Linked DNA regions of Homo sapiens: region 2 is linked to region 1. Evidence: fine-mapped expression QTL. A gene starts in region 1. The other region holds a variant in brackets. All regions are shown on one strand. Distances are from middle to middle. Region 1 holds the start of NIT2 (nitrilase family member 2). Region 2 overlaps TOMM70 (translocase of outer mitochondrial membrane 70).

Region 1 (5,383 bases):
GCACACCAGATTTTTAGCTGGGCTTTCAAGATCCATTTGGCCTGGTAGTTTTGTTTTTTGGCCTATTTTCATACGTCAGATGAACAGGAACATGGAAACGAAGGCAGAGCTGCTGCAGAGAAGGGACAGTGAGGGGAGTGGTGGTGGGGAGGGCTGCACAAACTTCACCCTTCAGCCAGATTCTTCTTCCTTTGCCTCTAAATCCTTTCACATACAGGTGAGGAAAAGGTCCTGAGGGTGAGGTGATTTGCCCTAGGTATTAACATCTAATCAGTGTCAGAGCCAGAACCAGAACCCAGTGACTAGCTTTTCCATTGTGCCCAGAAAGTTCTAAAGAAAGGTTTAAAAAGCGCACTTTCATTTAGCTTTTCCTTTTCTAGGAACACCCCTAGTGCCCAAGTCAGCAGTTTCCCTGCATGTGACAGAGGGACACAGTACCCATAGGCTTTTGGTCTTGATGGCCTTCTCCTGGTCCTGCTTCTCTCTCTCTCTTTTTTTTTTTAATGGAGTCTGGCTCTGTCACCCAGGCTGGTGTGCAGTGGCACAATCTCGGCTCACCGCAACATTCGCCTCCCAGGTTCAAGTGATTCTGCTGTCTCAGCCTCCTGAGTAGCTGGGATTACAGGTGTGTGCCACCACGCCCAGCTAATTTTTGCATTTTTAGTAGAGACGGGGTTTCACCATGCTGGTCAGGCTGGTCTCGAGCTCCTGACCTCTTGATCCACCTGCCTCCACCTCCTGAAGTGCTGGGATTATGTTAATTATTAAATCTAGGAGGAGGACACAGCTGTTCCTCCACCAGGCAGTGGCGCCCGGCCTGGTCCTTCTCCTCTAATGGCTCCTTCCCAGGCTCCACAGGCCCTTCTTCTTTTGCGTGTGCCTTTCATACTCCGCTTGTGTGTTCTCATCCAAATTCAGAGCTTCCTCTTAGTTAAAACTGCTGGTGACTCCCAAGTCAATTTCCAGCCCAGACATCTTCTGAGCTTGAGGCTTTGGTCCGGTTGCCTACTGGGCATCTCCACCTGGATGCCATGGCTCATGCCTATAAGGCCAGCACTTTTTGAAGCCAAAGTGGGAGGATCACTTGAGCCTAGGAGTTTGAGACCAGCCTGGGCAACACTGTAAGAATCCACTTCTAAAAAAATGAAATAATTTGCATTTTGAACAAGCACTTCAAATAACATTTCCAGCCAGGTTTAGGACCACTATTAGTTACAATGTTAGTCCAATAAATTTGGAAATCTAGATGAATTTTTTTAACAGGTTGTAAGTGACCACAGGTTGACCCTGAAACCTCATAGGTTAATAAGCATAGCAGAAATGAAAAGGTTTTTAAAGATCTTCCTGCTACAAAGCCAAGTCCAGATAGTCTCTTAAGCTGCAGAAAGACCATAACTGCTATGTATTTCCCCCCAATTTTTTTTTATGAAAGCTTAAAATTTTAAACTTCTACAAAGTTTTAATCTAGTACCATGAACAGCTGTGTCCTCCTCCTAGATTTAATAATTAACATTTTGCCATATTTGCTTTATCTTATGTGTTTTCTTTTTGCTGACGATTTTCAAGTCAAACATTCTGATGGTTCATCCCTAATACTTCCTCATTTTCTAAGAGTAAAGAATTGTCACAAGCACAACACTATAGCACACAAAATAATTCAGAAAAGCATCAAATATCTCGTTCATATTTAAATCTCCCTAGTTGCCCCCAAAATGTTTTTATAGTGTTCTTTTACAAACCAAGATCTGTTTCAGTATAAACTATTCTGGGGCATTCCAAAAGGTGGTTAAGTTTTGGATTTTTGTTCCACAAGTCTGACAAGGCACAAAAACACAAAACACGAAAATTAAAAAGCAATCTAATAAATAAAAATGCAAAAATCATAGTCTATAGGCTGGGCGCAGCAGCTCACGCCTATAATTCCAGCACTTTGGGAGGCTAAGGCAGTAGGGTCTTGAGCTCAGGAGTTTGAGACCAGCCTGGGCAAAATAGCAAGGCCCCACCTCTATTAAAAGTAAAAAACTTAAAAAAAAAAAAAAAAGAAAGAAAGAAAGAAAAAGAAAAAAGGAAAAGAAATAGCTAGGTGTGGTGGTGTGTGCCTGTAGTCCCAGCTACTTGGGAGGCTGAGGACGGAGGATCGCTTGAGCCGGGAGGTTGAGGCTGCAATGGGCTGAGACTGCTGCACTGCACTCCTGACTGGATGACAGAGTGAGACCCTGTCTAAAACAAACAAACAAAAAAGGATATTAGCAAAGAGATGACAATGTATTCGAGGACTGACTTGTTGAGGGCATGGCGTTGAACCCTCAGCATCTTTCCCGTTGGCCTAGCAGCCTTGTAGTCAGATTTTACAGACGTCTCGCGTGCCTAAACCAACCAGGGTCATTCCGTCCCCGTCACAGAGACTTGTTCAAATAGCTCAAGCCCATCAGCATACGGTGTTAACCTGGCCACAGAGGTGATTCAACCAGCTAGAAGTTCAGTCCTTTTGCGGAGAATCAGCAAACGCTACAAATCAGGGCTTTCCTCCCTGAAAAGTCTGGTTGTTAAGACATTCACCAGCACACCACCTCGACTTAGGCCGTTCCCTTTTGCCCTTTGCCTTTCGAGGCATGCTTTTTCCGGACTGTGTTGCAATTAACCATTTCTCGTTGGTCCGTCCTGGTGTTACAGGCGCACTGGAATGAACGCAGACCCTTCTCTCCTCCCGGCCGGGGCCAGGAGGAGGGGTGGGGCGGGGCCTCTGACGCGGTCCCCGCCCCACCGTAGCGACGCCGCGGTCCGCCGGATCTCCAGCGCTCAGTCCGCGCCGCAGGTGGTGCTTGTCTGCAGAGTCATGACCTGTAAGTGGCGCGGCCGCGCGCTGCAGCTCGAGTTCGGGCCGCGGGGGAGGCTTTGGAGCGGCGCCGGCGGTGGCTCGGCCGGCTCAGCCCCTCCGCCCCGCGTCCCCGCCGTGCGCGGCCTTCCCTGAGGCGGGCGTCCGCGTGGGTCCGGGATCGCGTGGCCGGGCGGCCGGGCGCACTCCCGGGATTCCAGGCTTCCGGGGTGGCGGGCGAGGCCCAGAAAGCACCAGGCCACCCGGCCGCGCCGGCACCCGCCGCGTCCTGCTTGACAGAGGCTGATGGACGTGTATTTCTCCACGGTGTGGGCCGCGGTGGTAGGATCCAACTCCCTTGGGTGTTTTCAAGTTGCGTGACCTCCTCCAGCCCCGCCCTGCACAAAGGTGCCCAGGCGGTTCTTCGTCTCCCCACTCACTTTCCAGCTCCAGATTTTGACTTGGATTCTTGCTGTGTCACTTACTTTGTTCAGTGACTTTGTGCAGCTTTCCCCCTGCAAGTCCCCTGTTTCTTTATTTGTAAAATGATGTTAATGATACCTCACACAATGATGTTAATGTGTGAAGGACCTGGCACATTGCTTTAAATGTTATTCCTTTGTTGTTTCCTTCGCTCACAGTATTTTATTCTTTTTTTCCGCCCCTTGGTAAGGTCTTCGTTGTTAGATTATGATGAATATTAGGGCAGCCTTAAAAGTCTTCACTTTACAGATGAGATGGAGTGACGGGCGTCTCCTCCTCAGCATGAGGAACTGCCCAGTGGCGGGGTTTCCCTGCTGCAGCATGTCTGTAGAGTGGGTCATTTGCAGAATGATAGGCAGTCCTAAGCTTAGTTGAGGACCCCGCCCTTGTGGGTGAGATGTGTAGGAGAGGAAGCCATCAGCGTAGCCATGGTGAGCTTTATCTTTCCCACCCTCGGAAGCACAGACATGGCCCGGCACGTGGCTCACGCCTGTAATCCCAACAGTTTGGGAAGCTGAGGCACGAGGATCGCTTGAGTTCACGAGTCAAGAGTTGGAGACCAGCCTGGGCAACATGGCGACACCTTGTCTGTACTAAAAAATACAAAATTAGCCCGGTGTGGTGGCACGCCCCTTTAGTCCCAAACTACTTGGGAAGCTGAGGAGGGAGAATGGCTTAACGCTGGGAAATGGAGGGGAGACGTTTAGTGGATTTATCTGCTGTTCTGATAACAGCTCAAAATATCTGTTTGCCCCAGAATAATCCCAGCTTTTATTTCCTGTTTTAGTTTCCCTTCAGATTCTATAACTATTTAGCAGGCTGCCTTCAGGGTTAAATTTAGTGCTTCTCACTATATTTAGGATAGATCAAGGAATGGGACATCTGAGTTTTCCTTTTAGTTAACCCTGAGCCAAACAGGCCTTCATCAGAGGCCAGGGTTTGTCATTGTTGCCTTTTCTGGAGACATTTGCGTTGTTACAGGAAACACCCAAAAGAGATAGCTCTCTAATGGTAGGATTTTCAGACTCTGGAGCAGAGGTGGGATGGGAAGTTCGGGCAGGCCATTACTAATTGAAGGGGTGGGTTGCCCCTCCACACCTGTGGGTGTTTCTCGTTAGGTGGAACGAGAGACTTGGAAAAGAAAAAGACACAAACAAAGTATAGAGAAAGAAGTAGGGGGGCCCAGGGGACCAGCGTTCGGCATACGGAGGATCCCGTCGGCCTCTGAGTTCCCTTAGTATTTATGATCATTCTTGGGTGTTTCTCGGAGAGGGGGATGTGGCAGGGTCATAGGATAATAGTGGAGAGAAGGTCAGCAGATAAACACGTGAACAAAGGTCTCTGCATCATGAACAAGGTAAAGAATTAAGTGCTGTGCTTTAGATATGCATACACATAAACATCTCAATGTCTTAAAGAGCAGTATTGCTGCCCGCCTGTCCCCCTTCCAGCCCTAAGGCGGTTTTCCCTATCTTAGTAGATGGGACATAGAATCGGGTTTTATACCGAGACATTCCGTTGCCCAGGGACGGGCAGGAGACAGATGCCTGCCTTCCTCTTGTCTCAACTGCAAAGAGGCGTTCCTTCCTCTTGCACTAATCCTCCTCAGCACAGACCCTTTACGGGTGTCGGGCTGGGGGACGGTCAGGTCTTTCCCTTCCCACGAGGCCATATTTCAGACTATCACATGGGGAGAAACCTTGGAGAATACCTGGCTTTCCTAGGCAGAGGTCCCTGCGGCCTTCCGCAGTGTTTGTGTCCCTGGGTACTTGAGATTAGGGAGTGGTGATGACTCTTAAGGAGCATGCTGCCTTCATGCATCTGTAACAAAGCACATCTTGCACAGCCCTTAATCCATTTAACCCTGAGTGGACACAGCACATGTTTCAGAGAGCTCGGGGTTGGGAGTAAGGTTATAGTTTAACAGCATCTCAAGGCAGAAGAATTTTTCGTAGTACAGAACAAAATGGAGTCTCCTATGTCTACTTCTTTCTACACAGACACAGTAATAATCTGATCGCTCTTTCTTTTCCCTACACTAATAATTCCTGAAGTTTTGCAGAGCTTCATAGATTATAATGTGCT
Region 2 (5,383 bases), 33 kb after region 1:
GGATGGGGTCTTGCTATATTGCCCAGGCTGGAGTGCAGTGGCTATTCGCAGGTGCAATCATCATGGCACATTACAGCCTCGAGCTCCTGGTCTCAAGCCTCTTGCCTCAGCCTCCCTAGTAGCTGAGACTATAAATAGTATATACAGTGCCACTGTACCCTCTATCCTACATTTTTAAAAGCTCACCATTAAATAGTACTAATTATTATAGAAAATAGTCACAGACAATTATAAACACACTACTGTTTCATCTTACCTCTTTGTCTGGTCCACTCCCCCATCAATACTCAGTCTTCCAACACATATATCAATTAGAATATTTTGCATCTGCATAATTTACTGCAAGAAAATCTGCTGTTGTGGACTTTAAGAAGAATGTACACTATCCATTAGAGTGGAAAGGGGCCAAGAGGATTAATAAGTGCCACCAAGTTTCTAAAACTGCAGAATCAGAGGCATTGTGCATGCTGACAATGGTTTAAAGGGTCTCTCAATTTTACTTTAATCCCCCATTTAACCTTTGTTTCTTTCAAAAAATCAACTGAAAGCGGTTAACTGAATATAAATCTATTTTACAGCATTTACTACGTTAATTTAAAAATCAACATGCTGTAAAATACTTACATTATTCACACATATATAGACGGAATCATCCAGAACATAATCAACTGCCAACCCCCCTTAAAAAAAAAATCAACAAATCAGTTTTTATTTGCATGGCCAATTATCATTTGTACTCTTTGCAACTTTATTTAAAAATCCCTTTAACATGTTCTAATCTTTTGTTGCACAGGGAATAAAAGCTGCAAGACTGCAAACTTCCTTCAACAGCCACACCCACAACACCTAGACATGAAACAGATGTAACAAATAACAACACCACAAACAGAAATACTGATTTCCACCATTCAACACAGTTCATGACAGTGTCTTTAGGGTTCAGTTGAAGAGGGGGTAAACTTTTAAAAAGAGGGTCAGTCTGCTTTCCCCCTGTTTTATAATGTTGGTGGTTTTAATCCGTATTTCTTTGCAACTTCTGTCTGGGCATGGGCGGCATCGCAAAGTGAATACAGATGGGCCATCTCCATTTCCGATTTGGCCAGGTTAATAGCTTTGTTGAACATGTCAATGGCTTTCTCCATGTTTCCTCTAAAAGAACAAAATTTTTAAGTCTCAGATTCAACAAGCACTTCACAATATTCAATGAAGGTTGTAAGTGATGGTACATGAAGTCTGACCACTAAGTTTCTTCACAATATTCAATGAAGGTTGTAAGTGATGCTACATGAAGTCTGACCACTAAGTTTCTACTATGATTCTAGTAAAATGCTTCTTTTAAAATAAACAAGAGTACCTACCACATTGAAAGCACTCAATGAATGTCAACTACTATTACAAATACTATGTGCTTACATTATATCCCTTGTATTCTGTGTTTACTGATAAGAACAGTCAGACTAGGGAAATTGATTGGCTTATTTAAAATCACAATTCCGTCTGGTTCCTAAATTTTACATGTTTCTACTGTTAACATGAGACTCCTTTAGAAAGCAGTGACATAATACCGGGACACTAATGACATGCAAGGGCCTTACCTTCACAGACTGATGTGGGCCCACCTCTTTCTGTTTCATCTCTTACCAGCACATCCCCAACCCCATGCATCTCTACTCTTCAGGCAGTCTATGTGAGTTCCTCACACCTACTCAATAAATACTCAGATTTATTGCCTCTGCCTGATTCTGGTCAAATCCACAGCTATCTAAGAACCAACTGTTTTAAGTAACTAGTATTAGCTACATATATATGCAATCCTACAAAGAATATTAAGTCCCTACTATATATATATATACCTGCATATACAGAGTCTAACTGGCATACATGTTAGTAAGGTACATTTTATTGGCATATGTGCCAGTTAGACTTTATATGCCAGTAAGAGGTACCACTAGGGTGACTATATTTAATCCCCCATTATAATATATGGCAACGTGATAGGCTTATTTTTAAAAAAAACTTTTTTCAAGAGTTCATGTTCTGGCATTAGGCCAACAGCTAGCAGATCTGCAAAATCCTAGGATAATCTGCAATTTCATTTATTCAAATTCACTTATTTAATTGTAAGGTTCAGAATGGATTTTTTCAAAGTTCAATTAACGTGAACAAAATTCCATCAAACCCTATCAGAGGTCTTTAGTTAACCCAGGATCTATGAAAGCCTTGAATTAAAAGCAAAGTGTTTTTGTGTGCATTATTCTAAGAAGAATCCACAGCTTCGCTCAAAAAAGATTAAGAACTACCACCCTATCCTATTCTAGTACAAGAATATTTTATTCACATTAACAAATTAGCAATTAAGAAATAATTTAGGCTGGGTGCAGTGGCTCACACCTGTAATCCCAGCACTTCAGGAGGCTGAGATGGGCAAATCACTTGAGGCCGAGAGTTTGAGACCATCCTGGCCAACATGGCAAAAGCCCATCTCTGCTACAAATACAAAAAGTTAGCTGGGCATGGTGGTGCATGCCTGTAGTCCCAGCTACTTGGGTGGCTGAGGTACAAGAATCACTTGAACCTGGGAGGCAGAGGTTGCAGAGTCAAGATTGTGCCACTGTACTCCAGCCTGGGCTGGAGACTCTGTCTCATAAAAAGAAGAAAAAAAAACTTAATATTTACATGCCACTGTGGGTACAGAATGGTTAAAAGAAACACAATTTTTTTTTTACCAGCCTATATATATTCTGCCTACTGTAGAGCAGGGAGAGGACTACAGGAGGGGCTGAATGATAGGGAATTAAGAAAACTCATGCTGCTTCCTGACAAGTGATAATGCCAAGATCAGTGACTGTGGTATCAGTGATATATGAGCTCAAACCCTGTCTTCTCTATTGGCTTACTGTGCAACCTTGTAAACCTAAGCCCTCTGGGCATCAGTTAAATTAGGGATCATATAATCTCCACCTTTATAAAGATGGGGATGAAGATTAATTGAAATAGTACTTAGGAAACATCTAAAGTTTAATACTTGGCCTAAAGTAGGAAACTCAAATGAATGGCAATACCA[G/A]TATTAAGATGGTATACAATAAATCCCATATATAAAACAGCTGTCACCTTTTAATGGTGGATCTTAAGAGCAACTCTGGATAAACACTTACACAAAATAAGAGGTTAAGGACAGAGCTGCAAAAAATGTTCTTATCCAACTCTGATTTTAAAGAAAATTCAGGGGCTCTGAGTTGATGTTGCAACTTGCCCAGCCATTTGGCTGGATGCTTCTTTGGAGGAGGGTCCAGATTTTCTGGCAACTTGGCTACCAATCCTTATGTCACTGCCTTAGCACATTTTTTTTTCCAACGTGAATAATACAGGTGAAAAGAGGAAAGAACATAACAGACTTTAACATGTACGTAATAAGAACAAAAAGCTAAATATCTATGGAGCTACCATATATTTCCTAACAGACTCCAGAAGTTACCTTTGTACTTCAATAGTTCCCATGGTTTCATAGGCAAAATCACATTTATTGTCAATTTCAATAGCCTTGCTGATAAGTTCCAAACCTCTATCCAGATCTTGCTTCCACTGAAGTTGAAGTAAACTGCAAATGCAAAAAAATGTCAGATGTGACCATGGCCCAGTATCAGTAGGAATACACACACATTAATATGACTCAATTTCTGCCTTCAATGAACTTATAAGTTAACTTATAACTTATAAGGCAATATATAATCAGCATCAAATTGTGTTTTTTTTCTCAGCTTATATTGGTTTGCTAGTCTAAGTTCCTTATTACAAAAAGTGTTCAATGGTCTAGGCTCTATTACCAATCTTGCATCCCTTATTTTTCACTTTATATAAATTTAAGTGAAGTTTCTTAGGATAATTCAAGTACGCAAGGACACGAACACTTGTGTATGCTTCGTATTTGGATATAAGCCAACAGCTGACAGGATGTTCAGTTTGAAATTAAAACCCTTAACACAGAGCAAGAATAGTACATTAATTTCTTTCTTTTTGTTTTTTTTGGGACAGAGCCTCACTCTGCCGCCCAGGCTGGAGAGCAGTGGTGCAATCTTGGCTCACTGCAACCTCTGCCTCCCAGGTTCAAGTGATTCTCACTCCTTAGCCTGCTGAGTAGCTGGGAATCGGGCATGTGCCACCACACCTGGCTAATTTTTTGTAGTTTTAGTAGACACCGGGTTTCACCATGTTGGTCAGGAGGGTTTCGAACTCCCAACCTCAGATGATCTGCCTGCCTCGGCCTCCCAAAGTACTAGGATTACGTGTAAGCCACTGCGCCTGGCCTCCTTAACTAATTTCTGTAAGAATGAAAAGACATCTAGGAGCATTAAGAAGTTTGTCAATTAACTTCTCTACCACAGTCCCCTTCCTCAGTGGCCAAAATAAATACATTTTATTACTATGCAAGAAATTTATTATCTCATTGGAACAATCACAAAAATACATACCCTTTATGAACATATGTTGTAGCATTATCTGGTTCCAAATCAATACATTTATCATACATTTCATCAGCTTTACCAAACTGTTGTTGATCTGTTAATGCCTATGTGAGGAGATACTTCAGTTATATTAAGGTAACCGTCAACCTAAGCAGTTAAAAGTATACTTATTATTCATTATAAAAATTTACTTCATTCATTATTACAAAATTATCACGTTTTGGGGATACAGACTGATTTACATTTTACATCTTAATTATCGGAGTTTTTAGGTGGCACTGCTATAAATATGAAATCTTAACTATCCTCTTTCTTCAGCAAGTGGTTAGTTATATGCCACAGCAGATAATCTCTGGTAAACTGTTCAATACAGATAATCCCATTCTTAGTCACAGCTCTAATATCACATTCTCATAGGTACAGTCACATCACTTATTCATAATTTATCATAATACAGCCCAAGGGAATTTTTTTTTTTTTTTTTTTGAGATAGAGTTTCATTCTTGTCACCCAGGCTGGGGTGTAGTGGCGCAATCTCTGTTTTCTGCAACCTCCGCCTCTTGGGTTCAAGTGATCCCCCTGCCTCAGCCTCCTGAGTAGCTGGGACTACAGGCGCCCAACACCTTGCCTGGCTAATTTTTGTATTTTTAGTAGAGATGGGGTTTCACCATGTTGGCCAGGTTGGTCTCGAACTCCTGACCTCAGGTGATCCACCCACCTCGGCCTCCCAAAGTTCTAGGATTACAGGAGTGAGCCACCGCACCTGGCCAGGGAATTATCTTAAGGGCAATATTCATTTGGAAGTATAAGTTAAGATGTATGTGTTAAATGTCTTCAGAGCTATTTGTTTAAAATTATTGATTTTTTAAAAAGCAGCTATAACTGCTTCAACTAATATATCTCCAAAAATAATTCCCTAA

What was found. PIP is the estimated chance that this variant, and not a neighbour inherited with it, causes the effect.
Region 2: its variant is fine-mapped to the expression of NIT2 in blood mononuclear cells (TOPMed, PIP above 0.99).

Annotation. Positions count from the first base shown.
Region 1 is chr3:100,331,956-100,337,338 of GRCh38, forward strand. NIT2 (nitrilase family member 2) reads left to right here and starts at 2,802. Exons shown (of 10, transcript NM_020202.5): 1 at 2,802-2,843. The coding sequence starts at 2,837. RefSeq lists enhancers at 2,570-3,138, 3,232-3,281, 3,302-3,361, 3,482-3,561 and silencers at 2,802-3,131, 3,530-3,824.
Region 2 is chr3:100,364,569-100,369,951 of GRCh38, forward strand. TOMM70 (translocase of outer mitochondrial membrane 70) reads right to left here. Exons shown (of 12, transcript NM_014820.5): 10 at 4,470-4,567; 11 at 3,476-3,598; 12 at 1-1,149. The coding sequence ends at 996. Among named protein-coding and RNA genes, the nearest start is that of NIT2, 33 kb to the left of the region's middle. The variant G/A (reference allele first, on the strand shown) is at 3,065.